7 linked regions of the Homo sapiens genome follow. The protein of the gene in region 4 purifies or fractionates together with the protein of the main gene of each other region. This does not show direct contact. Each region holds a gene or a part of one and is shown on either strand. Other genes may lie near its edges. The genes, in order: MAGEA10, DERL2, TRDN, SELENOS, UFD1, SVIP and UBE4A.

Region 1 (3,748 bases), on a different chromosome or scaffold from region 4:
GAGAAATGAAGTACTATTCAAGAGGTCGGCCTCAGGCTGGGAGGAGTGGGAACAGCATGGGCTCTACAGGAATTCAGACCCACCAGGAGTCTGGTTCCAGCCCTATTCCTTACTAGCCATGTGATTCTGGGAAATGCCCAAGTCCTGTGAGCCTTGGGTTCTTTATCTGTGAAGCAGGTGTGATAAGCCCTGTCCATTAGGACTACTGGAGTGTGTGCAATATAAGTGAAGAACCTGGCTCAGGGCCTGGCATAGTTAGAAGTTTAATGAATGGCAGATGGCTGTTATTTCTAATATTATTTGACCTCAGACCCCACCACAGTCTTCTCTGGAATTTTTGTCATTGTTATCCAGTACATCTCAGAATATGCAGCTCAGTGGAACATGGAATCCCAAATCAGTCACAAATGTTGCTTCACATATAAAACTCAGTAAATTTTCCCTCTTAGAGGATATATTTTCAACATTTCATGTGCAGGAGTTTCTCCCTGCTGGATGCTGCTCAAAGTTCATGGAATTTGAGTCAAGTATCAACTCCTTCCCTCTCTCCAAGGTTCTTTTCCATCCAAATCATGATTTTCATTCATTTCATCACCACTCAAAATCTAGCCCTTGCTTAGTGTTGTTCAAATTACACTAAAAATAACCCAATTAAAATGTTTCTCTAATGGAGTCAGCTAACTTCTAGGCATCAATTCATAGGCTTATTTATTATGAGATCCTTATCTCTCAGGAGACCCTTGCATATGATGGGTATCTATCACCTAGTTATTTTTTTAATTTAATTAGGAGTTCAACTGCACTGAGACAAGAGTGCAGAACACCTTCCATTCCTGCCCCAGGTGGACTCCTCTCTGTTCATCCACCACCCAAAAGGAACTGCTCAGAGCAGTTTTACATCCCAGGATTTGCTCTGTCAACTATGTGAGGCTCTGACCCTGGCACCACCCAGCTTCTTTGGATTCATCTTCACCAGAAGGAACTGCAGTTTCTCAAAGCCCCAAAAGTCCTGGCTCAGAGGATGTACGTGACCACTCTCACCTACAGCCCAATACCCTCACCCCGTCTTACTTTTCTTCTGGGTCTTAGAGGACATCTTGCCACCTTGTTACTTGACTGCAGCCCCTAGACTCTACCACCCTATGGGTAAAGGTGGTTCTGGCTTAACATTTCCACTACAGACCCAGGGCCTTCCACAGACCAGATGCTCAGTGGATGTTTGGGGAAAAAATGCACTAGTGAGCAAAGGTTTCATTTATTACAGTTTAATTTCGACTTAACAAGATCCAGGGATATAACTTTTAATTTTGCAGGATGATAAACTAAAAATAATAAAGAAATAAAAATACTAACACTTAAAATTATTTTCTCTATTTTACTATTTTTTTCATATTTCCAAGAAAATTACTATTCCAATTCCATGTTATTTTATTACAGATTACAAATATGATGGAAGGGTTCCCAATTTGTTTTACAAAATAGCAAAACTGTTTCTTAAACTGGATAAACAGAAACGAACGTGTGACCTTAGATTCTGAAGCTCATAAACATTCTAGTAAAAGTAACAACATTTTAAAATACCAAGAAGAGGCTGGGTGCAGTGGCTCACACCTGTTATCCCAGCACTTTGGGAGGCTGAGGCGGGCAGATTACCTGAGGTCAGGAGTTTGAGACCAGCCTGGCCAACATGGTGAAACCCCATCTCTACTAAAAAATACAAAATTAGCCGGGTATGGTGGTGCACACTTGTAATCCCAGCTACTCAGGAGACTGAGGCAGGAGAATCGCTTGAACCCAGGAGGCGGAAGTTGCAGTGAGCCGAGACTGCACCACTGCACTCCTGCCAGAGCAATAGAGTGAGACTTTGTTAAAAAAAAAAAAAGAAGAAGAAGAAAAAGAAAATAAAATACCAAGAAGAAAAGAAAAGAAGTCCCCAGGTTATCCAAAGAAAACAGTAAGACAAAGATGTTATGCACTGTATTTTCCTCAGCCTCAGCCTGGCCCTCCACCACATACATCATTGATTTCCATTCTCATTTGTTTTCATAAATTAAAAAAAAACAAAAACATAAACAAAAACTGACATGTAATTGTAGATATTTATGAGGTACAATTTGATGTTCTGATTCATGTATATGTAGTATAATGATCAAATCAGGTAGTGTATCCATCACCTCATGCATTTATCATTTCTTTTTGGTGACAATATTGAAAAGCCTTCCTTCTAGCTGTTTTGTAATATACAATATCTTAATGTTAACTATAGTCATCCTACTGTGCAATAGAACACTAGAACTTATTCCTCCTATTTAATTGTAATGTAACTACTGCTCTACTCTCTACTTCCATGATACCAACTTTTTTTTTTTTTTTTTTTAGATTCCACATATGAGTAAAATCATGTGGTATTTGACTTGCCTTTTAAAACACAGTGAAGAATCTGTCTTACTTTATTCAGGGTAGGAGAAGCTACCTGTAGCGCTAGAACTTGCACTGGCCATGGCAGTAGTATCATCTGTGGTGGCAATTCTGTCCTGGGCTCTCTCTTCCTCATCTTTCAAAGCCTCCTCATACCACAGTGGGAAGGATCTTGGATCACTCCCATTTACCTTGGCCAAAAATTTCAGGAGACTCATCTTCCTAATTTCAGCATGAGCCCTTGGACCCCACAGAAACTCATACCGTGCAGGATCACTGCCAGGCACCTGCCGGTACTCCAGGTAGTTTTCCTGCACCCAATCTTGGGTGAGCAGCTTCCTGGGCTCCCCATAAATGAGGTGCTCCATCCCATCATACAGCCCCATCATATTCAGTGCTTCCCAGATGACCTCCTCAGGGGTGCAGTAGCCCTCTATGAAGACTATGCTTAGGATAAGTATGAGAATGCCAGTCTTGGGCATGCTCTGGACATCACTCAGCATCCCATCATAGGTGAGGCCCAGGGAGGTGACAAGGACAAAGGAGTGGCCAGTGGGATCCACTTCCTTTACATCAATGCCAAAGACCAGCAGCATGCACTCGGAGGCTTCACTAAACAACAAAGGGAAGTGGTCTTCATAATTTCTTATGACACTCTCCAGTATTTCTGCCTTTGTGATCGGCTCCTTCATTTGATACTTGAAGAGCAGAAACTGCACCAAATCAGTCACCTTTTCATCTATCTCACTTCTGGGTAAAGACTCACTGTCTGGCAGGACCTGTAGGGTGCTTGGACTCTCCTCCTTTTGGCTGCTGGAGCCCTCATCAGATTGATCTAATGGAAGGGAAGCAACGACCGAGGGGGAGGAGCAGGCTATCTGAGCACTCTGGGGAGGATTTGGTGTCTCATCATCAGCAGAAACCTCCTCTGGGGTGCTTGGTATTAGAGGATAGCAGGAGGAGGAGGAGGAAGAGGAGGAGGAGGGAAAAGAGGATGGAAAAGAGGAGCTGGTGGAAGTGGATGATGAAGCATCCTCCTCCACAGCCAGGGGAGCCTGTGCACCCTCGAGGCCCTGTGTCTCACTTTGGGATTGAAGATCTTCTTCAGGCATGCAGCGCTGACGCTTTGGAGCTCGAGGCATGATGACTCTGATCAGGGTAGCAGGTGGGAGTGTGGGCAGGACTTGGGCGATGGGGACCCACAGGCCTGGGGAGAGAGGGAGGGTGTAAGTGGCCACAGCTGAGAACCACACCCTGGAGGTTCTAACAAAGGCCAACTTACAGGTCTTCTCCTTCAGTGCTGCTCTGTGGTGTCCCACAGCTCTTGACC
Region 2 (4,480 bases), on a different chromosome or scaffold from region 4:
TTCAGGCACATGGTACAACATGGATGAACCTTGAGGACTTTACGCTAAATGAAATAAGAAATAAGCCAGACAAAAAAGGACAAATATTGTATGATTCCACTTAGGTACAGAGTAGTCAAATTCAGAGAAAGAAAATAGAATGGTGATGGCTGGGGTGGGGAGTTGTTTAATGAGTACAGAGTTGTAGTTCTGTAGGATGAAGAGAGTTCTATGGATGGTGGTGATGGCAGCAAAACAGTATGAATATACTTAATGCCACTGAACATTTAAAATGAGTTAAGATGGTGAATTTTATGTTAGGTATTATTTTACCACAAAATTTTTAAAAAATTAACAAGGTATCCCAAGAAAAATTACTGCAGAACATAGGAGGGGATAGTAAATGTCCAAAAGACTCCCTAAGTACTATGATGTAGTAATTCAAAACCTCACTAAAGAAGGAACCATTAAAGCAGCATCCTCAATTTGCACTTATATTTCTACTTGTAATCCTCCACAGTTGATAAAATTAGAAATGTATCTGAAAACTTCTGATTTATACTGGAGTCAGAAAATAGTATAATTCAAAATGAGTTTTTAAAATTCTTACAAATTAACAATAAAAACAAACATACCAACAGAAAAAATGGGCAAAGGGCTGAATATGCAATTCAAAAAGGAAATCCATGTGGTCAATAAACGTGAGAATGTTTGCTCTCACAATAATCAAAGGAAAGTATATTAGAAACTGAGATCCCGGCAGGTGTGGTGGCTCATGCCTGTAATCCCAGCACTTTGGGAGGCCGAGGAGGGTGGATCACCTGAGGTCAGGAGTTCAAGACCAGCCTGACCAACATGGCAAAACCCTATCTCTACTAAAAATACAAAATTAGCCGGGTGTGGTGGCGCATGCCTATGATCCCAGCTACTAGGGAGGCTGACGCAGGAGAATCGCTTGAACCCAGGAGGCGGAGGTTGCAGTGAGCCGAGATTGAGCCACTGCACTCAAGCCTGGGTGACAGAGCAAGAATCCGTTTCAAAAAACAGCAACGACAACAAAAACAAAACTGAGATCCCTTCTACTGCCCAAACATTAGCAGGATGGGGGTGGGGGCACAGCCTGGTATAGGGAGTCAAGAGCCCCATCAGACCATGCACACATGGAGGTGGCCTGACGAGATGTTAGCCCGAGTAGGATGGGGAGGCATCCCTGTAAGAGGGCAGCCTGGTCTGGGGAATCTGAGGGTGAGTGAGATAAGCAAGGCATCCATATGGGAGAGGTGGAGACTATCCCGAAAGACTGGTTACATATGAGGGGTAATTAGGTAGGTAAAACATTAATCATAATAAGAATCAGGTTAGGACAGATGGAAAGGGCAGATGGAAAGGAGTGGTACATTCATACAACCAAATAATATTCAGCAATAAAAAGGAACAAATTACCAATAAATACAAGAACACAGATGAGTCTCAAAAACATTATGTTGAATGAAAGAAGCCTTATACCAAAGAGTACATGCATACTGTACAATTCTACTCATGAAGTTGTAGAACATGAAAAACTAATCTACAGAGGAACAAAACCAGAATAGCAATTGCTTCTTGGGGGACAGGTACAATGATTGACAGGGAAGGACATCAGGGAACTTTCTGGTTGATGGTAATTTTCTGTCTTGATAGATACACAGATGTGTGCATTTATAAAAACTCAGTTGACACACTCAAGATTTGTGTATTTTGTTGCACATAAATACTAAACTCTAGTTACTGATATGCACACTCAAGTATACAAGGAATTAAGTATACATATAATGGCACATACATTTTGGATTGGAAAGCTAGATGTAGGGATAGGTGTGCAATAAGAATAGGGAACTATTAATTACAGAATCTATGTGGTGGCTACATGAAGCTCACTCCAATTTTTTTCTGATTTCCTATAAGTTTGTTAATTTTCATAATAAAATATTGGAGGAAACCAATAGGAAAAAAGCTAGAATGAACCATGAGGTAGTACTAGAAATGGGAGTATAGTATAAACCCATGTTTTAAAAAATACATAGATCTAAAAATATACACATGTATACATTATCATACATACATACATATAATTCCATTGCTCTGTTCACTGAGAGGATCTGGGAATAGCAACACTCCAATAGCAATGAGCACATCTAGCACCCAGATCTTGGCTTCTAAATACCATTCTCCACTTTAAAGGAACCAGGGCTCCTTGAAGAAACAGCTGATTCTAGGACTGGATCAAGGAGAGCACAGGATGAGCCTGGTATATCTTGTTGTGCCAGAAAACAATTGCAAAAAAATAAAAAAATAAAAAGTGGGGTGTAGTGGCTCACACCTGTAATCTCAGTGCTTTGGGAGGCCAAGAGACAAGAGGATCACCTGAGGACTGGAGTTCGAGACTAGCCTGGGCAACATAGAGAGACCTTGTCTCCACAAAAAAAAACATTTAAGAAAGAAAATAAGCAGAGCTTGGTGGTGTGCACCTGTAGTCCCAGCTACTCAGGAGGCTGAGGTGGGAGGATCACTTGAGCCCAGGGGCTTGAGTTAACAGTGTGCTATGATCATACCACTGCACTCCAGCCTGGGCAATGGAGTGAGACCTGTACTGCATATGTAATTTCTTGTAGGACTGAAATTGTTTCAAAACATTTTTTAAAAATCATAAACAATGAGACATCATCCTACAACTATTCAACTAGGAAAGGGTAAATAAAATGCCTTCCTTGTTTGATTAGGATGTGGGGAAATGAACAGTTATAAATGCTAGTTGAAATGTAAACCTGAACATCCATTCTGGAAGGCGTTTGGCAACAAAATAGGAATTCTACTTCTAGGAATTATCTTTTGAAAATAATCATGGATGTGTGCAGAGATTTAGCTACAAGGACATTCACCACTCCAATTACAGAAGAGAAAACCAAGCACTAACGTCAATGTCCATCAACAAGGGATTAGTATAATTACACCATATCCATACCATGGAATATCACCTGTTATAATTTTATAACACTTCAGGGTGGAAAAAACAATTATGGCATACTAAGTTTACAAGGTTACAAAAATTGTTTTTTGAGACAGGGTGCCACTCTGTCCCCCAGCCCGAAGTGCAGTGGTGCGATCTCGGCTCACTGCAGTCTCAACCCTCTGGGCTCAAGCAATCCTTCCACCTCAACCTCTCGAGTAGCTGGGATTACAAGTACATGCCACCATATGCAGCTGATTTTGGGATTTTTTGTAGAGATGGGGTTTTGCCATGTTGCCCAGGCTGGTGTCAAACTCCTGAGTTCAAGTGATCCGTCTGCCTTCACCTCTCAAAGTGCTGGGATTACAGGAATGTGTTATGTTGTCCAGGCTGGAATGCAGTGGCTATGTTAAAGGCCTAGCCCAAGAAGAGCAGTGGCTGTTCACAGGCGCAATCATAGTGTATGCAGCCTTGCCTGGCTCAGCGTTTTTTAAAAAGTACACAAAGACTGAAGAATACACATTGAAAAGTTAACAATGGTGGCCACTGCTATACCCAAGTGTCGGGATAGTGGACAATTTCACTTTCTTCTTTTTTGCTTACTATTCTACAACAAACATTTTATAACAAAAACTCACATTTTACTTCTCAATTGAGCCCTTTTTAATATGGCATCTCCCAAGGATACCAAATTCCAGAGTAGAAAGAGGTCTCATAAATCAAAGTTCTACTGCACTCCAGCCTAGGTAACAGAGTGAGACTCCATGTAAAAAAAAAAAAAAAAAAAAAAAAAAAAAAGAAAGAAAGAAATCAAAGTTCTATCTCAGGAAACTGAAGTGCAAAAAAGAAAGGACTTGCTCTATGGCTGGTCAGTGGGACAGCTACACCTGGTTTCCAGTCCAAAGCTATTTCCACTCTGCTTCACTGCTTATCTCAACCACCTGCTTGGCAGGCCACAAAGTCCACCATCAGAAACTTTCATCAGTTTTGCCCATTTTGCTACCTTACTTCACTAAACGTGGACAGCAGCTTTCATAAAACCAGCAGGCTCCTACCAGAATAGAAGTTCTAGTGGTCATCTCTAACAATTACCAGGTTACTCCCAAGATATCTTGAGCCTGTTGACGTTGGTCTTGCCACAACCCTGGCACTGTCTGCTCCTACCCAGTCCAAGTGCTCTTCAACTGTAGCCAGAATGCTCAATCTGCAAATGGTTACTGACCTGAGCTATGTGTACTAGGAGCTAGGGGAGCCAAAGAAAACACAGATCATGCCCCTGTCCTGGTTTGCCTGTAAGAGTATGTAACCTGGTGTTAAATACTCACAAAATAGATGGTGTTTTCAGAATTCTTATTCCACCAGGTTGATTGGGAAATACATCTTCCAAGAAAAAATATATGTGTCCAACTGCAATACCTAGAGTCAAGCAGAAATAAAGGATGAGGGAGAGAATTAAAATTTAGATTGCAGGTAGACCTACCAACACAAATTGCCTATATTTAGGATGAATGTCAA
Region 3 (3,536 bases), on a different chromosome or scaffold from region 4:
CTAAAATTTCACCCAGGTGACATTTTTATTAAGACACAGTCTGGAGAAATTTCAGAATTCCACATCTCATTTGCTAATATTTTAAACAAACGATTCACCAGACCTGACTAATTGAATGGTGTATTTCCACTGGACTGAATGTCCTAATTATCATTCAAGACATATCTTAAAGATTTATCAAGCATTTACTCTCCACCTTACCATGTCTAAAGCTCAGAGATATTTTGAGCTCTAAAAGAGTATCACAAGAAATTTATAGCAGTCTGTAGTACAACTATTACCCATTCTTAGAGCAAAGCCACAACTAAAATAGAAATAGACAAAAATAAAATAAAATCATTAAGCATCAACTTATTGGGTAAATTAAGTTTAGATACCCATATGATGCAAAAGGGTCACTTTTATATAAGCTTCCCCATCTTTTAAACTTAGAGCACAGTCTATGTTGTCATTAAAAAAATAATAGCTAACTGAAGCCAGGAATTCATTTTGCAATTGTGTCAATTATTTTAAAGATACCATTATTAAGTAAACTTTAAATTAGTTTGTGTACAACCTTATAGTGACTGGAAATAAGATAAATACAAGCACCCCCTCCCACCGCAGCAAACACACATAACAGATTCTTGAGACTTAGACCCTTAAACATGTCTGCTCATCACTCAATCCATTTGGCCACCCTTTCCGTCCACACCAGGCCAAAGAGCAAAATGTTTTCACAGAAATTCTCTGGGTTGCATATTCTTAATTGCCTGAACTACTGTGGACAAAACATCACATTTTTAAAATCTTAAAGCACTTGTAAGGGTCATACATGTGTGTTTACTGTCCTTGTTGCTTCTGTCCTGGAGAATTTGCTTGACCAGAGCTCTCTCCAGGGCGGTCTGCAGGAGTGAAAGGAAACTGAAATCCATAGCCATTGTACCCATCCAAGTAGACACACTGGAAGAAACTGATGGGACCTAAGGAACAGAGCATGACAGTTTGTTAAAACATGCAGAACATGAGCAAAAAAGCACAGTGAGGCAGTGCAGTGCAGCAGATAAGGTCACAGATTCTGCCAGCAGCCTCCGTAGCTGTTGGCAAGTTACTAAACTTCACTGTGTCTTGGAGTCTTTATGTATAACATCAAAACAACGAAAACCGCACAGAAATATTATGACAGTTAAATGAGTTACATGAGTTACATGTGCTCTTAAAATTCTTCCTGGTATGTAATAAGCCTTTAATAAGTGATAATAAAAATGGCCTGGCAGAGAAAGTCAAAGTTCTGATCATATAGACATCTGTTGATGTGCATAGCAATCATAGAGACATAGTCACAGGTTTCAAAATATGAGCTTATCAATATGCAAAGCAACAGACTGTGTGTGTGTGTTTTATAATGTCACAGAGAGGTGGTGCCAACATCTAGAAGTTTTATTTGCCCTTACTTTAGAGGCAAGAGCTTTCCTAAGGTGGCTTGGTTGCTCTTTGAGCAACAAAGGTAGCAGCCAGGTAGCAGCTCTGAGTAGAAAGCAAAACAGGAAAGTTAAGGGAGTGTGGTGCAAGTAAGGACTCTGGACTCAGTAAGCCGGTGCTCCCAGGTAGCAGCTTTGGTAAAAGATGGCGAGTTTAGCATCTCCTCACAATCTTGGGTGCCTACAAACTTCCAGTGTTTTCTATCCTATCCATTTGCATTCTGTCAACCAGCCATAGATTTTTGCAGAAGGCCAGGAAAGAAAAATCATAGTTAAAGCTAGTGGTGTGTGGGAGATAAAGAAGATGGCCAAATCCATATGAGACTAGGGGTTTATGAAGTAGAATAAAGCAAAGGATAGGAAAAAAGGAAGCTGGAGAAGCAACCAGGGAGTATTCTGATTCCATTTCCATGGGTCACTGGGTTTTCAGGGATGACAATAGTTTGAAGAATCTTGAATTTAGTTATCTTTTCCAATGCATCTCATCTGGAATGATTTCTCTTTTCTTCTATCTTCAAACCGAAGCAATAATACAACTTCCGTCTCTTCAAGTTTGTGGAGGTTATGGGAGCTTGGGGGTTAGGCAGGCTACAAGAGGGACAGTAGTAAAGCCGGCCCTGCACAAGGAGAAATGGAAATCCATTGCTAAAAGTAGAAGGGCCCATCAATGACAGGCTGCCTTCCAGCTGCTTATCAGAAGTGGACACTGTTTTGACACATTTATTTAATTGATGTTGAATAAGCTACTCATTAAAATATTATTATGACTGCAAATATTAGAGCTTAAATTAAAGGCTCATGAATATCAGGCTATAGAACTGCCTTCTTGTAAGACGAAGATAGCAAATATCATTTTGATGCAATAGATCCCCCAACTGAGGTTAGAATATTTGACACCATTTTACTAAAAGTATTTGCGTTTTGTTTTTAATTAAAATTTTTACTTTGAAATAATTGTAGACTCACATGTAATTGTAAGAGTTAATACAGAAAGATACCACATATCTTCACCTAGTTTCCTTCAATGGTAACATATTGTAAAACTATAGAACAATATTCCAACTAGGAAACTGGTATTGATACAATTCACCTGTCTCATTGAATTATATTTTAATAGTTATTTAAAATATATGAGATTTCAAATGTTTATGTGACATAGCCACAAATTATTACCAGTAGGTTAATAATTGGGAAAGCGTTGCTATATAAAATGAAAATATGTCCAGATTGACCTATAATTCTTTTTCTTATGGATTTTGTAATATTACTCAAAGTATCATAAGACTCTGCTTATTTCCCTATATTTCTCACAACCTTATTATATGAAGGATTATAATAAGTGTCTTATCTACTGCAGTAGTTCCAGCATCCAAAGAAGTACTTGGAACATAGTAGGCATTCAGTATCTGTCTAATGAATCACCTATTAATACAGAGTAGGAGGCATTTGCTATTGTAAGGGGCACTTTAGTAATTTCCTGCACAAAAACATCCAAAAAGCACTGGAGAATCAAGAGACGTCATTTCTTCAGACAAATATCTAGCTCTTTACTTTAAAAGCATTATGTGACACAAACTTCAGTTATACCTATTTCAAAAATTGCTTCCTTTATTCTGTTCTGCAATGACTTTAATGCAAATACAGATTTAAAATTTATTGCTTTACCATATGAACAAAAATGTCTAATTTGGAAGAACCGAAATAATGAGAAACTTGGGCATTGAATTTTGTAACTGCACATGAATATTGATTGGATTCTAAAATAAATGATCCCAAAGTTTGAATATTTAGAACCTACCATACATCTAGCAAAATCAAAAAGAATCTTGAATCTTAGAAGTGAGTTTCCAAGCAATTGAATTGCTAAAACCTATTTCTTCATTTTTTCTACCTGATATAAAAAAATTTGGCATATTACTTCAGCTGTCCTATTATAAAGCAGGCAGTAAGACACATTTAAGCATAGATTCAGCCAGAGTACTAAGGATCAGAAATATGTAGAAGGATTTGCGATAAATGCCACTTCAACCATTACTTGTAACTCTTCCAACTATCTGCCTCTTGCCTAACACAAAA
Region 4 (5,035 bases):
GACATCAGTGGTGCTTACCTCCTCCCCGCAAAGGCTTTCTGTCCGATTTCCGTTTCAGGACAGATGAAGTGGAAGGCCCAGGACTGTCTTCCTCCTGTTTGAACACACACAGTAGTGTAAGAAGCAATTAAAACATTCTACTTGGCAATCTTCATCTACCGCATGCCAGCCGGCCGAGGTCTCCAGTCACCTGGGGCTTCTTTGCATTTCCTTTGTAACTTTTTCCTTCTTGCATGCTGTCCCACATTTCAATCTTCTGTCTCCTTTTTTCTTCTTCAAGCTGAGAAACAATCACATTTTACAGAAAGAATTCAGAAGCTGCCATTTCTCTCAAAGACAAAGCTAACTCTGATAATTCTTAATTTAAATGTCTTTCAGAACAAACTTCACCCTCGTTTTCTTTAGTTAATAAAACTGTTGTGATCTGGTAGTGTGAGTTTAACTCACATAGAGCAGCTTTGGTTTTTGTACACTATTAAAGAAAGCAAAATGTTTCATGAAAAAGATTACTGACTCCATTCTTCTGAAACTCACTCCTGTCAGGACATTTTTGGTAATGGGGAAGACACAGGCACATGCACACACACACTCACATGCTCCCTGCTCCAGCCTGTCCCTCCTTTTGTGCTCTGGACCTTTCATGGTAATATATTCACACATCTAGTGTTCCCTAACAATCGTGTATTCTTCTTGATATCACCAATACTTACATGGTAGGAACTGAAATGCTTATTGAATCTAATGGGATAGGACCTGGTCCTAGAAGCTTATAGACAACACAGACACAGGCATCGTTAGCCACTAAACCTCAGACAATTTCTATGCACACATTCAAACTGAAACCAGTTCATACTTGTTTCAGTTTTTCCTTATGCTTTTCAACTTGCGCATTTAGTTCTTCTTGCATTTTCAGTCGAGCAGCTGCTAAAGCTTCTTGTCGTTTAACAACAACATCAGGTTCTAAAATGTCAGAAAAAAATGGAGATAAAGCACTGTGTACAATATAAAATAGAAACTTTTGAGTGTCCATATTATTAAAAGTATAAAGAGGTATGGATATCAGACAATGAAACAACATATTTTTACATAAGTACTCCTAACCCCTCTGCATACATTTTACTGCTTCAGGGGGCAGGGGTCTGTTGCTGAGCCACGGATTTTAGCCCGAAATATCTACATCACCAGAAATCTGTTAGAAATGCCAATTTCTGAGTTCCCCTGAGCAATTCCGATTCATAAAGCCTGGGATAGTGGCCACACAGAGCACATCTTGGATACCTCAGTGACACCCACAGTCTCTAGGCTGACTAGAATCCTGGAAGACTACCAAGGAAATATAAAGTTTTCTAAATCATTATCCATCCCTTAATTAGCGCAGAAGATTCTTAAGTATTTGTTTCTACAGAAAAGAAAAATCCTTCCAAATAGCATTATGAATAGAAATGAACTCATTTCTATTCATAACGTCTACTCATAGAGTCTCGCTCTTTGCAACAAGGCTAGACTCCATCTCATAGAAAAAAAAAAAAAAAAGAAAGAAAAGACAGTCTCACTCTGTTGCCCAGGCTGGAGTGCAGTGGCACAATCTCAGCTCACTGCAATCTCCAGCTCCCAGGTTCAAGCGATTTCTCCTGCCTCAGCCACCCTAATAGCTGGGATTACAGGTGCCCGTCACCACGCCCCACTAATATTTGTATTTTTAGTAGAGACAGGGTTTCACCATGTTGGCCAGGCTGTTCTCGAACCCCTGACCTCAAGTCATCCTCCTGCCTCGGCTTCCCAAAGTGCTGGGATTACAGGTGTGAGCCACCGCGCCCCACCGAGAACCATATACTTCCTACTTTTTTTTTTTTTTTTTTTTTAAAGACAAGGTCTCAATCAATTGCCCAGGCTGGAGTGTAGTGTGGCCCGAGCATAGCCCACTGCAGCTTTGACTCCCTGGACTCAAGTGATTATCCCGCCTCAGCCTCCTGAGCAGCTGGGACTACAGGTGCGTGCCGCCACTCCCGGCTATTTTTTTTTTTTTTAAATAGAGACAGGGTCTTCCTGTGTGGCCCCTCTTACTTTTACTAAGAGACTAACTCTTAATATAAAGGAGGTGCAAAACCACCGCTTTCATTTCGGTTATCAGGCACTAACCCACAGCAGCCGCAGCTCGGTCCAGCTGCCTCTGCCTCAAGGCTCTTAGCCGGGCGGAAAGCTTCTGAAAGACCACGTAGAGAAGGATGCAGCTGAAGACGATGTACCAGCCATAGGTGGCCAGCAGGGAGCCCACTGAAAAGAAAAACAGTTTTCAAAAAACTAAAAATGACACTACTAGTTGACCTTTCCATAAGACTCAACAAACACAAAGTGTAACTCCTGCCCTCAAAGCCTTCATGGTCTAGGCTGAGGAAAAAGCCTCCTAAGTAGATCGTTAAAACACGAACTCAAGAAGTGCGACAATTCAGGGATCACTGAGAAGTGAGACTTCCCAACCATCTGGGGAGTCGGGGGCAGTTAGAGTGTGGAGGGCACAGCAACTGGGTTTTGAAGAATGAAGAGCAACTAATCTGAATCAGGAAGGCAAAGGCCTTTCAGAGCCACATAGAAAGGGGTGACAGCGCGGGGAGTCAGGAGTGTGTATGGGGCTGTGTGGGACGGGTCCCAGAGGCAAACGCCAACGGCCGAGTGACCCCAGTAACTACCACAGGAAGGGCTTGGTTCGCAAAAAAGACTTGCGCAAACAAGGGACAGCCGAGCCGCCCAGGGAAGTGCGGCTCCCGAGAAGCCTCCGCGCAAGGTCCGGGCCTGCTGCCCAAGGTCCGCGTAAGCGCCAACGCCCGACCGTTCCCAGGCCTCCCAGGCTCCGGCGCCCGGTGCAGCGGCGGACGACCCACCCATCATGGCTGCGCGTCGCAAAAGTGGCGGCGCGCGCCCGGCTGCCCCGCAACGACTCACCCGTGGTGTGCAGGAAGCGCAGCCCCTCGGTCTCCAGGGCCGGCCGCGCGGACAGAGACTCCTCTTGGCGTTCCATGACCGCCGCCGCCGCCGCCGCCCAGCCCTGCCGCCGCGCCTCCAGCCGGGCGCTTCCGGTGCGCTCCTACGCACACGTGGCGCGCCCGGACGCGGTCGTGGTCCCGGCCAATCGCAGGCCGACCCCGCCCCGTCGCTGGGCCAAACGCAGGGGGGCGTGGCCGAGGGGCGTGGCGGGGGAGAAATCCCGGCTACGCTCGCCGGGGCCGGGACAGCGCGTGTGGGAACGTTCTGTGCTATCTCTTGGCTTGAGTCGGGGGTGGAGGACGGACCTCGTTCACGGATTTCTTACCGAATTTCTACTTTCTTTTTTTTTTCTAATTGGACACTGAAGCCAAGGAAGTCAGTGGTCGCCCGGAAGCAGGATTTGCACCCACATCCTTGCCCGGGGCACATTGGACAACAGGGCTCAGTTGGTTGACGACTCCCAGCATTTGAGGGTTGCAGCCAACGTCCACCCCAAGTGAAGACACGAAATGTGAGCAGCCTCCTGCTCCTGCTGCTGGTGATACCTTTCAGGCCAAGAAAGTCCCCACCGATCCTCAAGGTTCTTTCTCCAAAATCAAAGCCTTTTAGGAAAGAACGATCATAGTAACTGCTCTAACCTGTGTTGAATTATACTGTATCACCACAAGACACGATCACAGAGTTACTTATAATAGTGTCCTGGCTGTGTTCCTCTGCCTGCAACGCCGTCCCGCACCCTCTTCCACCACTCAAACGTCACCACCTTTATGGTGACCATAACCATCCTATTTGAAATGTGACCTTGGGTTTTTCTGGAGCATTTGAAGTGCACATACCTAGCTGTGTTTCAAAAGAAGGGTTGGGAATTGGGAATAGAACTGAAAAAATAATGAATAGGTGACAACATCCGAGTGCTGCGTCACCACTGTCGCCAGGAGCAGTGTGGGGAAGGCAAACCATGACATGAAGCGTGAACGCAATCAGTGTTTCTTCAATGCAGGTTTGCCAAGAAGTTCCTCAAGGGGGACAGCTGCAGGGATTTGAGCACTGACCTCATCAAGCTTTCCCAGCAGTGTGTTCAGAAAGCAATAAAGGGGACCTGGCATTCATGAGCCATAGCAAAGAGAAGCCTGAAAGCTCTTCTTCCCTGTTGGCCACCTTGAAAATGGACTCCTCAGATGAACCGAGGACTCTGGATGTTATCCATAAAGGCTGTGAAGATAGCTTATCGATTTAATGAGGAATTTTAGGAGGGAGAATTTCCTTCTTCATGTTTGCCTTTCCGTTGTAAAAGGTGATGAACCATCACCACTCTTTGCTTTGCTACAGATGATTTCTCACTTGCTCTGGCATCTTGCAGGAACATTTATGTGCTAAATTGAATGACTTCTATGGAATTAGTTGCAATTCTCAGTCCCAGATTAGCTTTAAATCCGCCTTACATCTAAATACTGATAAACTAGACAGGATGAGCAGGGTTGCCTCAACTATTTTGTTAGGCTGTGAAGGACATTAGGTATACCGTACTGGGGTCATAGTTCATGGAAAAAAATGGTTAGGGCCTCACTTTTCTCTCAGGAAACTCATACCAAAACAGTTTCAATCAATGCTTGGGAGCAGTTTTATTTTTATACAGTAACTTAACAGGATGGTTTAACACAAGAGTTCCCCATCTTGACAAGGTGTCAGATGAAGACTTGAGAGCTTCAAGAATGTTGCAGTGGGCCAGGAGTGGTGGCTCTTGCCTGTAATCCTATTGCACTTTAGGAGGCTGAGGCAGGAGGATCACTTGAGGCCAGGAGTTCAAGACCAGCCTGGGCAACACAGCAAGATCCCATCTCTACAAAAAAATTTGGCCAGGCACGGTGGCTCACGCCTGTAATCCCAGCACTTTGGGAGGCCGAGGTGCATGGATCACCTGAGGTCAGGAGTTCAAGACCAGCCTGGCTAACATGGTGAAACCCTGTCTCTACTAAAAATACAAAAATTAGCCAGGTGTGATGGCGGGCGCCTGTAATCCCAGCTACTAGGGAGGCTGAGGCAGGAGAATCGC
Region 5 (4,480 bases), on a different chromosome or scaffold from region 4:
CCAGGAGGGAAGCAGAAAGTAACTGACTTCTTGGTTTGGTATCAATATTGGGTATAGGGCCAGGGGCTTTAGGCTCTGTACCTGTCTATGGAGAGGGGTCATCTGAAGGATTGGGAAGCCCTCACTGTCACTGTCCTGAGCTTCACAGAACCCCCTGAGGTGGCTAGACTCTCACTCCAGTATTCTGATTTCACACACACAACAGACAACTGACACACCTCAGCCCTGCCCCTGCCATCATGGCCACCAGAGGAAGGGTCTGCTGTGGGTCCCCGGACCCAGCAACAGAAGCACATCTGAGGTAGCTCCTCAGGGAACTTTCAGGGGAACTGAGATAATGTGACCTGATTAATAATTCCAAGTCACAAAACAGGAAAATAGGCAGATCACCAAATAGGGACCAGAAAGGTTTTGAGTAAGAGACAGATCTAATCAGACTCGCATCTTAGGAAAGCCAGTGGGGGCAAGAAGAGGCTGAATTGGGGGTATGGAGAGGTATGGAGAGAGGCTGGACCACAGTGGTACTGGGGGTGGCACTGTGGAAGGAGGGGCATGTTGTGCTCCACCCCACCAAGGAGAGCAGCTAAGGGTTTTAGTCCCTTGGGAGACTACTGACCCAGGCTTTGTCTCCAGAACTGGGGTGAGGCTGCCCGACCCCAGCGGGCTGGCACAGATCCTCCTCCTGTCCTGGAGGAGAGCCAGGACAGACCTACCTTTTAATATCTCCAGGCTTGATTGGGGAGGGGCTGGGCTCTACCCCTTTCTTCTTTCCATCCAGTCTATTGCCAGATCCAGAGAAAGCCTAGACAGGAAGTAGGTGAGTCATATAATAAGCCCAAGTGTGAGGACGATATGTCCTTTGCTTGGAGATCACTGCAGGGATGTGAGCTGGGGGTGCTGTGCAGACCCCTTCAGGACTGAAGCCCTGACTCCTCAACTGCTGGGGTGCTGGCAGCTAAGAACTCTGCCCAGTTCCTCAGGGGGTGGCCATGAGCTGAAGACAGCCACTTGGCCAAGGGCAGCCAGCAGTCAGTGTTGGGTTAAAAGACCTGATCCCTGCCTCTGCAGGGCCACCCAGTTCAAGCTCTATGGGTGGGCTAAGGCTACTGTTGTGACTGCCCCATAGCTCAGCTTCCCATCATTCTGCCCTCTCTGCTGCTTCCTGGCACCTCCTGCCACCTCAGTGCCCACACATGAACCACCTCCACCTGTTTCCCATGGAGCCTTGCCAGTAGTTATGCTAAGGGTCATGTTTGCAACCTACATGGTACAGGCAAAGAAAAAAGGAAACATGATTTACAAGAGAGAGAAAGCAAATGTGGTAACTTTTGGTGAACCTAAGGGAACAGTATATGTCTACTGTACTATTTAAACTCTTCGGTAGGTTAGAAATTCTTAAAAATCTGGGCTGCCTTATGGGGCTGTTGGGAAGATTCCAGGAGAGAGTGGATACAAAAGGGTTTGGTAACTGAGCGAGTGGCAGATTTGCATATGCACAGGTACCCAGAGGCCTAACCCCTGCTGATGTCCATCGAGCATCATGGAGAACACCTTGAGTGAGTGCTCTAATTTCAAGGAGCAGAGGGCACAGCAATATAAGTCAAGTGGTCTGGTACTCACGCGGAAGCCCAGCTCTCCAGCATAGCCACTGTGGTCGGCTTCACCTTCCTGACAGGGAAAAAGAAAAACAGGTGAGCTCCTCAGCGGGGACACCCAGCTTCCCTCTCACCCCCACCCCCGGCTAGGATGTCCCCCGGAAGCATGGCTGGAAGGGACGCAGAGGATATGACTACACCAACACTAGCAGAGGCCACCCACGAGCCACTGCCAGGAACTCAAAAGCAGCATGCAGCAGGACAGCAAAGGACACTGAGGATAACACTTACTGTCGACTCCTCATGCTGGACTTGTCTTTCGGGTTCTTTGTAGCCCAGGGGAGCATCAAAGTCCACCTGTGTTTCCAGGATTTTAAAAGTAAAATATTGAGACATGACCACCCTTGGCTTCCTTTTTTGTTTTTAATTGAGACAACTGTAGATTCACATGCAGTTTTAAGAAATAATACAAAAGATGCCTTGTACACTTGCCCAGTTTTCCCAACGGTAGCATCTTACAAAATTACAGTAAAGTATTGCTGCCAGGATATCAACACTGGCACAACCCACTGCTCTTATTCAGATTTCCCCAGTTTTACATGTTTTTGTTCATGGGTATCTTTAGTTCTACACAATGTAATCACTGTGTGGGGCATGTATCCACCACAGTTGAGATGTAGAACAGTTTCACCACCACTAGGACTGCCCATGTTGTCTTTTTATAACCATACCCAGCTGTCTCCCAGCCCCCTCCACCAGTCCTAAGCCCTGGCAACCACTGGTCTGTCTTCCATTTCGAAAGTTCTGTCACTTTGAGGATGTTATATAACGAAGTAACTTTTTGGGATTGGCTTTTTTTGCTCAGCAGTATTCCCTAGTAATACAACCAGGATGCTGTGTGCATCAGCACTTCATTCCTACTCAGAAGGTTCAGTACGCTTCCTTAGCTCTTAAGCATATTCACTCCTCGGCCAGGCGCGGTGGCCCACACCTGTAATCTCAGCACTTTGGGAGGCCGAGGCGGGTGGATTACCTGAGGTCAGGAGTTTGAGACCAGCTTGGCCAACATGGTAAAACCCTGTCTCTACCAAAATACAAAACTAGCCGGGCCTGGTGGCACATGCCTGTAATCCCAGCTACTCGGGAGGCTGAGGCAGGAGAATCGCTTGAACCTGGGAGGTGGAGGTTGTAGTGAGCCAAGATCGCACCACTGCACTCCAGCCTGGGCAACAGGAGTGAAACTAAGTCTCAAAAAAAAAAAGAATATTCACTCCTCAACGGGTCAGAGCTAACCATGGCAGCACTGGCAGCAAACTCTGTTGCCCCAACTGGCCCTGAGATAGATCACAAGGTCACAGTCTCCTCATGATGTTCTGACAGCATCTTCCTCCTCTTTACCCAGAGTCCCAGGGGCTGTTTGATGCCCTCCTGACACCCTGGCCTGCAGTGGTCACCAACTGCCCATCCTCCCAGGGCCCAGGCTCACTGTAACTGGACAGAGCCACTCACGTTCATGTCACACTCAATGATGGACACTGCCTTGTCGGGTTTGGTCTCCATCACACGCAGTTCGTAGATCTGTGGGGCAAACACAGAAATCAGTTGGATGGTTTCCTGGCAGCACTGGAGCTGTCGCTGTCCATGTTACTGTGGCTCTACTGGCTCCTGCGAATGACACAGCATTCATGCCCATGACACAACCTACAGCTGCACTTCTTGCTGTGACAACACTGCCATAAGGGACAGGCTGCCCTGTGCCCATCGCTGAAGAGATGCTGTTCCCCAGATATGGTTCAAATTAGACAAGGTAGTTATACAGCTAACTGCAAAAGACACTAACAACCTTTAACCTGGAAAGTTCACTTCTGGAACTTTACTATTTATTTTATTTATTTATTTTTAGACAGAATCTCGCTCTATCGCCCAGGCTGGAGTGCAGTGGTGCGATCTTGGCTCACTGCAACCTCCGCCTCCAGGGTTCAAGCACTTCTCCTGCCTCAGCCTCCCTAGTAGCTGGGACTATAGGCATGTGCCACTACACCTGGCTAATTTTTGTATTGTTGTAGAGATGGGGTTTCACCATGTTGGCCAGGCTGGTCTCGAACTCCTGACCTCAGGTGATCCGCCCACCTCGGCCACACAAAGAACTGGGATTACAGACATAAGCCACCGCACTCGGCCTTCGAAATTTATTCTAAGTAAATAACTAGCTATACCCAATGAGAAAATTCTAAGAATGCTCATACCAACGTCACTAATACCACTGTACAGATGCTCCTTGACTTATGATGGAACCAAGTCCCATAAACTTATAAGTTAAAAATGTATTAATATTCCTAACCTACCAAACATCATAGTGCAGCCTGCCTTAACCATTCTCAGAACACATACATTAGCCTACAGTTGGGCAAAATCATCTACTATAAAGCTTATTTTATAATAAAATGTTGAATAACTCATGTAATTTATTGAATACTGTACTGAAGATCAAAAACAGAATGGTTGTATAGGTATTCAAAGTATGGTTTTTACTGAATGTGTATCATGTTTGCATCATAATAAAGTTGAAAAATTCTAGGTAGAACCATGGTCAGGGACTGTCTGTATACTCAAAATGCAGCTGAATTATATTTCTTCATATGTAAATTTACAGTTATACAATGGTATGCTACGCAGCCAACAGGAAAATAATTGTAAAACCAGTCATGTTGCTTGTGTCTAAGATGACCTCACCTATGTAAAAAAGGCACATAAAAAATGTCCAGAAGCAGGGCCGTGCGTGGTGGCTCACGCCTGTAATCCCAGCACTTTGGGAGGCCGAGGAGGGCAGATCACGAGGTCAGGCAAATGAGACCATCCTTGCTAACATGGTGAAGACCCGTCTC
Region 6 (5,095 bases), on a different chromosome or scaffold from region 4:
TTTTCTTTCGACGCAATCTCTCTCTGTTGTGCAGGCTGGAGTGCAGTGGCGCGAGCTCGGCTCACTGCAACCTCCGCCTCCCGGGTTCAAACGATTCTCCCTGCTCAGCCTCCGGAGTAGCTGGGATTACAGGCGCCCACCACCATGCCTGGCGAAGTTTTGTATTTTTAATAGAGAAAGGGTTTCCCCACGTTGGTCAGGCTGGTCTTAAACTCCTGACCTCAGGTGATCCACCCACCTTGGCCTCCAAAAGTACAGGAGTAAGCCACCATGCCTGGCCTTTTTTTTTTTTTCATACATTTCAGTGAGACAGAGATAGCGCTTACAATTTCACGTTTTCTAAACACAATGCTAAAGAGGAGGTGGGTAGTTATCTTTCTCTTTTTGCAACAGAGAACCTTCACTTTTTCTTTATATATTTTTATTTACCCTTAGAAACGGCCCATGCAATCGAATAATAGTATTAAAAAAGCATCATCCCCTATTATTTAAGGAATAAACTACTGTTTCATTCAATAACATGGAAGAATTTAGAAAATATTATGGCTTTTGCAAAACATATTGTATATTTCATTTATGTAAAACTTAAAGACTATAGTGATATTAACATTTATGCAAAACTTAAAGACTAAAGTGATATTAAACAAATTAATAGTTTCCTGGATCTAGGTATAGGATAAAGTATTGAATGGGATTGGGTACAATAGAAGGTTTTTGGGTGATGGAAAACTTACATATCTTGAATGTGGTGATCACATGTTTGTTAAAACTCAGTGAACTCTACAATCAAAATAAGTGCATAATATTATATGTAAATTATACATCTATAAAAAATTAACCAGCAAGTATATCAAAAAGCCGACAATGGTTTCTGAGACGCTGTCACTATACATCCTACCTTTTTGTAATGTTTGAAAATTTTTACATAAGCAGAAATAACTAATAGAATGCAAAAATAAAATAAAATAAAATAAAAGCATTTGTGTGGAGACGAGATCAGTAACTTTAGTATCACCTGTGGGTTTACTGGAAATGAATCTCAGGTCCCACCTTATACTTACTAAATCAGCAAGTAAATTTTAACTAGTTGCCCAGCTGATTCTCATACTTATTAAAATTTGAGGAGAATCATTAAAACATTTCTCAGTAGATGAAACTTTATTATTTCTCTCGGAAGGATAAATGACTTCTAAATACCAGAAACTAGTGGAAATGTCAACTAATGCCACATTTATGACGCTAGATTCATCGTCATAATAATGGATTTTATATTCTGCCCTCTGTTCTGGAATAGCACTGTCACTAAGAAGGGAGAAAAGGGTGCTGATGTTTACTTGGAATTTTGGCTTTAATTTCTAGGACACCAGAGTCCCATCTCATAAAAAAAGGTAGCATGAACTACCCAGAGCTGTACCACTCATTCATTTATAAATGGTAAGGCAAGGTTAGCAGGAAGAGCTTTGGAACCGTAGCGAAGCTTTTCCATCCCTTCCCTGCATTGCTACCCACAGCAGGTGTTTCCTGGAACCTAGGCTTTGGCCACAAGCCCAGCGGTCGCGGGGCGGGGGTAGGCGGAGCTGTGGGTGAGGAAGGGGCAATGCCTTAAGGGGGCGCAGCTGAGCTGTGGGACTGGTTGGTGTCGCGAGAAGAGGGGGGCGTTGCCGCAGAGAGGCGAGGCGGGGCAGAGCTGCGGGGTGGGGGCGGGGCGTTGCCGCTGGGGCGGAGCCGAGCCAGTGGAGGGCGGTGGGGGCGGGGCAAGCGCGGAGGACCAGGGACCGGCTCCGGACCGCGCAGTTAGCGCCGCCTGGCCTGGGCCGGACCCGGTCAGGGTTCTCAAGCTGTCGTCCCTATGGGGCTGTGTTTTCCTTGTCCCGGGGAGTCCGCGCCTCCCACGCCGGACCTGGTGAGTAGAGCAGGTCCCTGCGTCCGCCGGGCCGCGCCTTGAGCACCTGTCCTCGGGTTGCGGGGCGGGCCGAGCCATTGTACCTGGTGGCGCAGGTCGAGAGCCCGCTGGGGGACCCTGCTAGCGAGGACGGGTGGACGCGTCAGGAGGGTCGTTGGGTCCTGTCAGAGCGACCTAGGCCGTCGCCTCCGTGTAGATCTCCACTTTTGTAACAAAAAGTTGTCGAAAGGCGGCTGTGGCGTCTTTCTACCTTCCACTGACTTTAGCTGCGCCGGATCTTCATAGGGCGCCGGCGCACGCAGAGGGCGTTACGCGTGGGACATTCCGGGGGATGTGGTAGATGGAATTCGGCGCGAAAAGACATTGCTTTCTCCGGGAGCTCTTTAGTCGTCTAGGAGATGTGCGTTTTCAACTGTGTCTACCATCTTTTAAAAGAAGGTGCTCGGAAAGTCGCTTATACGCCTGAGCTTTATCGGATATGTTTTTTTAATGATTTCTTTTTAGTATTTATCTCATTCTTTTACGTTCTCCCTTTAAAAGAATATGTAGTACAGAGTGTCCAATTTATAATGTCGTATTTAATAAAAATACTGGACACCCAGTTACATTCGAATTTCAGATATACAAGGAATACGTTTATAATATCGTTTTGTGCCATGCAATATTAGGGATCTAGTTCTACAAAAACATTACTCATTGCTTATCTGAAATTCAAATGTAGCTAGTGGGTGTGTGGTACAATACATGTACACTTTTTGTAGCTTTCTGTTAACAGTATCTTTACATTAGTACTCCTTACAGGGAGTTAACATAAACCTGTTTCTCTTCTCTAGCTAAAAATTAGTTGAAGAAAATGAAGTATTTTTGGGAAGTACATTAACTCTTCAGCTACTATAGATACTAAAAATTTAGTACTTATAAATTTGATGTGGGAAAGTTCAGCTTCTCTTTGTTGCTGCTGTTGTTTTAAATTAAGTTGATTTTGTTGTTCTGGCTGTCGATAAAATATAACATGTCAGATTTGTTAAGCCCTCCCCCCCATCCTCATACTATACCCTCTTCCCTTGATAACCACACGGCTCACTGCTTGGATGTCACTTTACCAGTGAAGCTTTTGCTGACCACGTTAAACAAAATATATTCCCCACAATACCACCCACCCATTCTCCCATTACTTATCTGCCATGCCATCTGACAGACGTTTACTTACTTCATTATATTTGTCTGTGCGCCCGCAATTGGAATTTGTTTCATTTGGGAGGAGACATTTATCTATGTTTTTACACTGTTGTATCCCAGCACCTAGAAAAAGGGCTTTATAATAAGTAGTACATGGTCTAGAAAAATAGCATTCACTGTTTTCTGATATGGAACAATACCTCTCATGAAATTACTCCAGTCCTTCCCTCCTACACACTGAGATTAGCCCACTTCATTTATTAACCTTTCCTAAAAACACCAGGTTACTTCAGACTCCATTTTAACCGGCAGTAACAAACCATGTATTTTCCTTTTTGTATTTGTAAACATTATTTGTTTTGTTATTGCCCTGACTAGCTTGTAGGCCTTTTTATTAAAAAAGAGAGTAAATAAATGATTATATAGGTAAACCTTGTATCTGTTTTAGCATGTGCTGATTTGAAGGCATATTGATTAGGAGAATGAAATTCAAAAAGTTGAGTAGTGGCATTCTTTGTGGGACATTTAGGGCCAGTACCGAATATTTTTGTAAATTGTTATAGTGCCTATGAAATAAATGTGAATAATTTATTAATAATAATGTTTGTTATTTTAATACATATTTTTACACATTTATTTAGGAAGAGAAAAGAGCAAAGCTTGCAGAGGCTGCAGAGAGAAGACAAAAAGAGGTAAGATTAAAGATCAAGTTTTGCCTACTTAGATAATTGAGTTTGGACTTTATTCTTCATAGATGTCCATAGCTAGATTTTCTAACGCAAATGGCCTTTGATATCCCAAAAATTTACATTTAAATGTAATTATTTTCAAAATGATTTCCTTATTTATATGAATTGCATTAATATATTTATATTAATATATGAAAACTATCATATCTTCTCTAAATTCAGATACTCTTTTAGTAACATCCTTCCTTTTAAAATGGCTGTGCATTGTAAAATACTTACAGATGTGAAGCAAGTTTAGGGGAAAATTTGTATAGTTACAAAATACCCAGTGAAGAAATGATGTTTTATGTAAGGCTGTTGTAGAAACACTCCTTCTATGTTACCAAAAATAAACCAACTCCCTACCCCCAAAGAAAAACCTAGAAAGCAAAGATAGACAAAAAAATGTTTTGCACACTGGACAGATTTTTGTTGTCTTTCTGTTTTTCTTATCAAATTTCTTCAAGGCTGCATCTCGGGGAATTTTAGATGTTCAATCTGTGCAAGAAAAGAGAAAGAAAAAGGAAAAAATAGAAAAACAAATTGCTACATCCGGGCCCCCACCAGAAGGTGGACTTAGGGTAAGTATTAAAATTTTCTTAGTGATTAACTTAACTGGCATTTTAAAAAAACTTAAGTAGCAATCCATTCATAATTTTCTCCTGAAATGTATTATCAGAAAATTTTGAAATAGTTTAAAAGCATGAGTAGTAAATATTGGAAGTAATACCAATTTATTTTAACATTTATTGGAATCAATTAGCTTTTTTCCCCAAAATGAAATAATAGATTTATTATTTTAACACTATATATATTTTAATACTCTTATGCTTACTACTAATCTTAAATAATTCAAAAATTCAAGCAATATGGAGAAGTATAAAGAAGTGTAAAAGTCATCCAAACTAAGTACCATTTTGACAGACATAATTTCTAACCTTCATTTATATATCTTATTAAATTGGATTACGCTATAAGTTCTGTTTTATGGCCTGAGCTCTTTTACGCATTGATTTGGAATCTTTGATCTTTCCATTGCCCCTGTTTATTATAGTTATGTAAATGTTAATTTGGATTACAGAATGTATACAGGTGTGGGTATCATACACATACCTCCCTAGATATGGATCCCAGAGCTAGACACTGGGAATATAATGGTGGACAAGTTAAGCAGAGTCTCTGAATGCTGGAGTCTTTACACTCTAGCAGGACTTTAAAGGATTTATTTTTAAAATCCCTTAAAGCTCAGGAAAATAATGGCTCAGATATTAAGAATTTATTCTTG
Region 7 (4,480 bases), on a different chromosome or scaffold from region 4:
AGTAAATAATCAATTCTGCAGAAGTTGGAGGTCTTCATAGCTGAGTCTTGAGAGACAAGTTAGGTTTTACCAGGCAAAGAAGCAAGAGGGTCCCTTTATACAGAGAGAAAAGCAAGTGTAAAGGTACAAAGCTATGGAAAATCTTGACTAAGGAATGGTGAGAGGCTCAATGTGGCTAGGGCAAGGGGTAGATGGGGTTGAGTTGGGGAGGAAATGGATCAAGGGAGGAAGATAGGTGGGGCTGGATTGGAGAAAACAGTACAGAGAAATGAAGAGAAAATAAATGACTCACAGTCCTACCATTCAAAGTGAAATCACTCTTAATTTTGGTATATTTCATTCCAGTTTTATAATTCTAATTGTAAACATGATAACTGCTCAAAAGCAAATAATCAAATTCAGAAAAGCACAAAATAAATACAAATGATCTATTGCCTATCACTTGAAACAATCTATAGTAGTATTCCTTTTAATTTTTGGTGATTTCATGAAAAAGATTTAACTGTATTTCTGTAGACGGTGAGAAACCAAAAGATATATTCAGACAAAGAACTAATATGACAAGATATGTTTTTAAGAAGATATCACTGCTAACAGTATGGAAATTGAATGAGTGTAAGAGGAGACTGGAGACCAAGACATTTACCCTCTTTTTTTTTTTTAACTTCTTTGAGGTTTGGACAAAGAAACCTGTTTGATCCCAGCTGTGCAGGAGCCGAAGTTTCCACAGAACTACAACCTTGTAACAGAGAACCTTGCTCTGACAGAGTACACCTTGTACTTGGGATTTCACAGGTAACTCCTCTGATGTCATTAGGAAAAAACAGTTTAGTTGTGTTGATAACTAGAAGGTAGAAATTGAGTCTTTGGCCAGGCACAGTAGCTCACATCTTTAATCTCAGGATTTTGGGAGGCCAAGGCAGAAGGATTGCTTGAGGCCAGAAGTTTAAGACCACCAACCTGGGCAAGAAAGTGAGACCCCCATCTCTACCAAAAAAAAAAAATTAGCCAGGCATGGTGGCATATGCTTGTGGTCTTAGCTGCTTCAGAGGCTGAGGCAGGAGGATTGCTCTAGCCGAAGAGTTGGAGGCCACAGTGAGCTATGATTGTGCAACTGTACTCCATCCTGGGTGACAGAGTGATAACCTGTTTCTTAAAAAAAAAAGAGAGGAAGAGTCTTACAGATATAATCTGAGCTTATTCTAAAGGTTCACATTAGAATCTAATAGAAAAGGGGCATTGTATGAATTTACTTGTGTTTCATGAATCAGCTTTGTCCAGATTCCTTAAATTTGTTTTTAACTTTTATCGTTGTCGTTGTTGTTGAAATGGATTTTCGCTCTTGTCACCTTGGCTGGAGTACAGTGGCACATTCTCTGCTCACTGCAACCTCCGCCTCCTGGGTTCAAGCAATTCTTCTGCCTCATCCTCCCAAGTAGCTGGGATTACAGGCATGCACCACCATGCCCAGCTGATTTTGTATTTTTTTAGTAGAGATGGGGTTTCGCTGTGTTGGCCAGGCTGGTCTCGAACTCCTGACCTCAGGTGATCCACCACCTTGGCCTCCCAAAGTGCTGGGATTACAGGCATGAGCCACTGTGCCTGGCCTGTTTTTTAACTTTTGACCTGTTAAACTTTAAAAATTAAATCACTGTCTTCCTATTGTGATCTGGGAAAGTGGAATTGTTTTCATTTTATATTGCACTTTCTGCTCTTAAATTTTCATTACTGGCCGGGTGTGGTGGCTCATGCCTGTAATCCTTTGCACTTTGGGAGGCCGAGGCAGGCAGATCACTTGAGCCCAGGAGTTTGAGACCAGCCTGGGCAACATGGCAAAACCCCGTCTCTACAAAATATACAAAAATTAGCTGGGCATGGTGGCGTGTGCCTGTAGTGTCAGCTACTCACGAGGCTGAGGTGGGAGGATCTCTTGAGCCTGGGATGTTGAGACTGCAGTGAGCCGAGATTGCGCCACTGCACTCCAGCCTGGGCAACATAGTGAAACCCTGTCTCAAAAAAAAAAAAAAAAATTTCATTACTACTCCTGGTGATAAAAGATGAAGTTCAGCCGGGCGCAGTGGCTCATGCCTATAATCCCAGCACTTTGGGAGGCTGAGGCAGGCAGATCACAAGGTCAGGAGATCAAGACCGTCCTAGCTAACATGGTGAAACCCCGTCTCTACTAAAAATACAAAAAATTAGCCCAGCTTGGTGGTACGCGCCTGTAGTCCCAGCTACTCGGGAGGTTGAAGAAGGAGAATCGCTTGAACCTGGGAGGCGGAGGTTGCAGTGAGCCGAGATGGTGTCACTGCACTCCAGCCTAGGCGACAGGGCGAGAATCTGTCTCAAAAAAAAAAATTAATTAAAAAAAAGAAAAAGACCAAGTTCTACTCTACAGATAGAGACAAAAGTGGCAAATATTAAGGAAATGTTTATAAGGGAGCTAATGAGATCAATAGGACCACAAAAGACATTAGATAAAGAAGATTCTAGAAATGTTAAGATTTTAGAACTAGAATGTATGACTTCCAAAAACAGTTCTGGTTCTGGCTATTCATTATTCTGTAATTTGTTTTCCTCTGATTTAGCTGATTATGACAGGTATAAGTAGAGGAAGAAAACAGCAACTCAGTCATAGAAAGGGACACTAAGAATAGCAATTTTTAATGCCTTCTCAAGATACCTGAATTGATGCAGAGCATTTTTCAAAACTACTCAGTCAACACATTGCCGGAAGAAGGAAATTATGTCTTTAGAGAGAAATCTCCATCATAGACATTTTAAATAAGACAGTAGATAAAAGTTCAGCATGTGCTTAAGCTGCTCAGCTGCCTAGATTCAAACAAAAAATGAATATCATCTAGTTTCCCAATATTAGCTAGCTCAAGACATTATCTACAGGGCCAAAGGAAATGATTTTGGACTATTATCCATAACTTTGAATTATGTGTCTTCCTTTCAGTAGAGAATATTAGGCTGACCTTTTCTGAAGAATAATTTAATTTAATATTGAACAACAGAGAGCTGGAAGCTGCTCTTAGATTGCATCTCAGGTGGCTACTAGTTTATATGTGGTCATTACTAATCTAGAGTCCCTTTTCACCAGCTTAGTTTTCTACTAACCAAAGAAAGACTATCCATATAACCCCATCAAAGTATGATCATTGCATCAAAGTATGATCATTGCCCTTGTGTGATGTAAAACTATCCTGCTGGCCTTCTTGTACTTTGCCTAATAATTATTTTATGTAATAACAACCCATTCTACACCCTACTCAACCAAGCTGCCTTTCTTTGGATAGTGCATTTCAACTGAAGGCTGCTATTTGCAATTAGCTTCAATTATGTTGAATACTTGGCAGCATTTTCCCATTGCTGTGCACCCTGCCTGTGTCCTGTCAAAAACTTTTGTGAGTGCCTTCTGTGTCATTGCAACTGCAACTCCCTACTATCCTTAAAGAGAAGGCTAGATAAATAATTGAGGATTTGTTTTTTTGTGACTTTCTGTTTTCCCTGACCCAGTCTCTTCTGCTTTCTTGGGGGCAGGTTGCATGATCAGATGGTAAAAATCAACCAAAATCTGCATCGGCTGCAGGTTGCCTGGCGGGATGCTCAGCAAAGTTCTAGCCCTGCTGCTGACAATCTTCGTGAGCAGTTTGAACGACTGATGACCATCTATCTTTCTACCAAGACTGCCATGACAGAGCCACAAATGCTACAAAACTGCCTAAACTTGCAGGTGTCCATGGCTGTTCTACTGGTTCAACTGGCCATAGGCAATGAGGGCTCACAGCCAATAGAGCTAACCTTTCCTTTGCCAGATGGCTACAGCTCTTTGGCTTATGTGCCAGGTAAGCAGGCTCTCCCTTGGGAATGTCCTGTTTATAGCCTTCTGAGTTTAAGTGGGTCACTTTGGAAGTTTAATCCTCAAAATACCCTTTCTTCGTTATCATTCAGTTGTTTTTGGAGAAACAACTCAAACTTAGATAATATCTACTGGTCAAAGTATTAGGGGACTAACAGTTTGTTCCCTCAACCTTGTGTCCCCCTGCTATGCATATCAGAAAATCATCTTCAAAGGATTAAGTGTAATCAGAGTTTTCAGAGCTGTTAGTTTCTATCATTAATATTTGTTCAACTTACACATTCATCTAACTTTCCCTGTCCTTTTTGTAGAAAAAAAATTAGCTCCTGCTGGTTAACTCAGAAGGGAAAGAGTGTGTGTGTGTGTGTGCGTGTGTGTGTGTGTGTGTGTGTGTGTGTGTGTGTGTGTGTGTCAGTGAGTCATTGAGGGGTGGGCAGGTGTTGTCAATCTAATCAGGTTATGTGTTCTTAACCATTGTATTGGCCATATCATGCTGAGTAACAGATTACCCCAAAACATAGCAGCTTAAAACTACAGACTGGGTATGATGGTGCACGCCTGTAATCCCAGCACTTTGGGAGGCCGAAACAGGATGATTACTTGAGCCCAGGAGTT

The links.
Region 1: the proteins of SELENOS (region 4) and MAGEA10 purify together in Homo sapiens (co-immunoprecipitation; one large-scale study listed by IntAct). This does not show direct contact.
Region 2: the proteins of SELENOS (region 4) and DERL2 purify together in Homo sapiens (affinity purification with western blotting; 3 studies listed by BioGRID and IntAct, with this or other methods). This does not show direct contact.
Region 3: the proteins of SELENOS (region 4) and TRDN purify together in Homo sapiens (co-immunoprecipitation; one large-scale study listed by IntAct). This does not show direct contact.
Region 5: the proteins of SELENOS (region 4) and UFD1 purify together in Homo sapiens (affinity purification with western blotting, with the first as the bait; one study listed by BioGRID). This does not show direct contact.
Region 6: the proteins of SELENOS (region 4) and SVIP purify together in Homo sapiens (affinity purification with western blotting; one study listed by BioGRID). This does not show direct contact.
Region 7: the proteins of SELENOS (region 4) and UBE4A purify together in Homo sapiens (affinity purification with mass spectrometry; one large-scale study listed by BioGRID and IntAct). This does not show direct contact.

What each region holds. Positions count from the first base shown.
Region 1 is NC_000023.11:152,132,061-152,135,808, forward strand, and holds the end of MAGEA10 (melanoma-associated antigen 10), read right to left. Parts: 5' UTR 3,701-3,748; intron 3,626-3,700; 5' UTR 3,561-3,625; coding exon 2,451-3,560; 3' UTR 1,250-2,450; downstream 1-1,249. UniProt on the Homo sapiens protein: Not known, though may play a role in embryonal development and tumor transformation or aspects of tumor progression.
Region 2 is NC_000017.11:5,475,764-5,480,243, forward strand, and holds part of DERL2 (derlin-2), read right to left. Parts: intron 4,382-4,480; coding exon 4,291-4,381; intron 2,237-4,290; coding exon of another isoform or gene 2,194-2,236; exon of another isoform or gene 2,086-2,193; intron 1-2,085.
Region 3 is NC_000006.12:123,217,779-123,221,314, forward strand, and holds part of TRDN (triadin), read right to left. Parts: intron 963-3,536; coding exon 823-962; 3' UTR 1-822. UniProt on the Homo sapiens protein: Contributes to the regulation of lumenal Ca2+ release via the sarcoplasmic reticulum calcium release channels RYR1 and RYR2, a key step in triggering skeletal and heart muscle contraction.
Region 4 is NC_000015.10:101,274,402-101,279,436, forward strand, and holds the start of SELENOS (selenoprotein S), read right to left. Parts: upstream 3,085-5,035; 5' UTR 3,017-3,084; coding exon 2,941-3,016; intron 2,275-2,940; coding exon 2,140-2,274; intron 961-2,139; coding exon 854-960; intron 281-853; coding exon 191-280; intron 95-190; coding exon 19-94; intron 1-18. UniProt on the Homo sapiens protein: Involved in the degradation process of misfolded endoplasmic reticulum (ER) luminal proteins. Participates in the transfer of misfolded proteins from the ER to the cytosol, where they are destroyed by the proteasome in a ubiquitin-dependent manner.
Region 5 is NC_000022.11:19,454,967-19,459,446, forward strand, and holds part of UFD1 (ubiquitin recognition factor in ER-associated degradation protein 1), read right to left. Parts: intron 3,174-4,480; coding exon 3,105-3,173; intron 1,953-3,104; coding exon 1,887-1,952; intron 1,669-1,886; coding exon 1,621-1,668; intron 803-1,620; coding exon 714-802; intron 1-713. UniProt on the Homo sapiens protein: Essential component of the ubiquitin-dependent proteolytic pathway which degrades ubiquitin fusion proteins.
Region 6 is NC_000011.10:22,826,503-22,831,597, reverse strand, and holds the start of SVIP (small VCP/p97-interacting protein), read left to right. Parts: upstream 1-1,796; 5' UTR 1,797-1,849; coding exon 1,850-1,903; intron 1,904-1,986; exon of another isoform or gene 1,987-2,243; coding exon of another isoform or gene 2,244-2,303; exon of another isoform or gene 2,304-2,341; intron 2,342-3,723; coding exon 3,724-3,774; intron 3,775-4,277; coding exon 4,278-4,391; intron 4,392-5,095. UniProt on the Homo sapiens protein: Negative regulator of the ER-associated degradation pathway (ERAD) of misfolded proteins. It competes with AMFR/gp78 for binding VCP/p97, and inhibits AMFR/gp78-VCP/p97 complex formation that is required for degradation of ERAD substrates.
Region 7 is NC_000011.10:118,375,900-118,380,379, forward strand, and holds part of UBE4A (ubiquitin conjugation factor E4 A), read left to right. Parts: intron 1-674; coding exon 675-795; intron 796-3,546; coding exon 3,547-3,851; intron 3,852-4,480.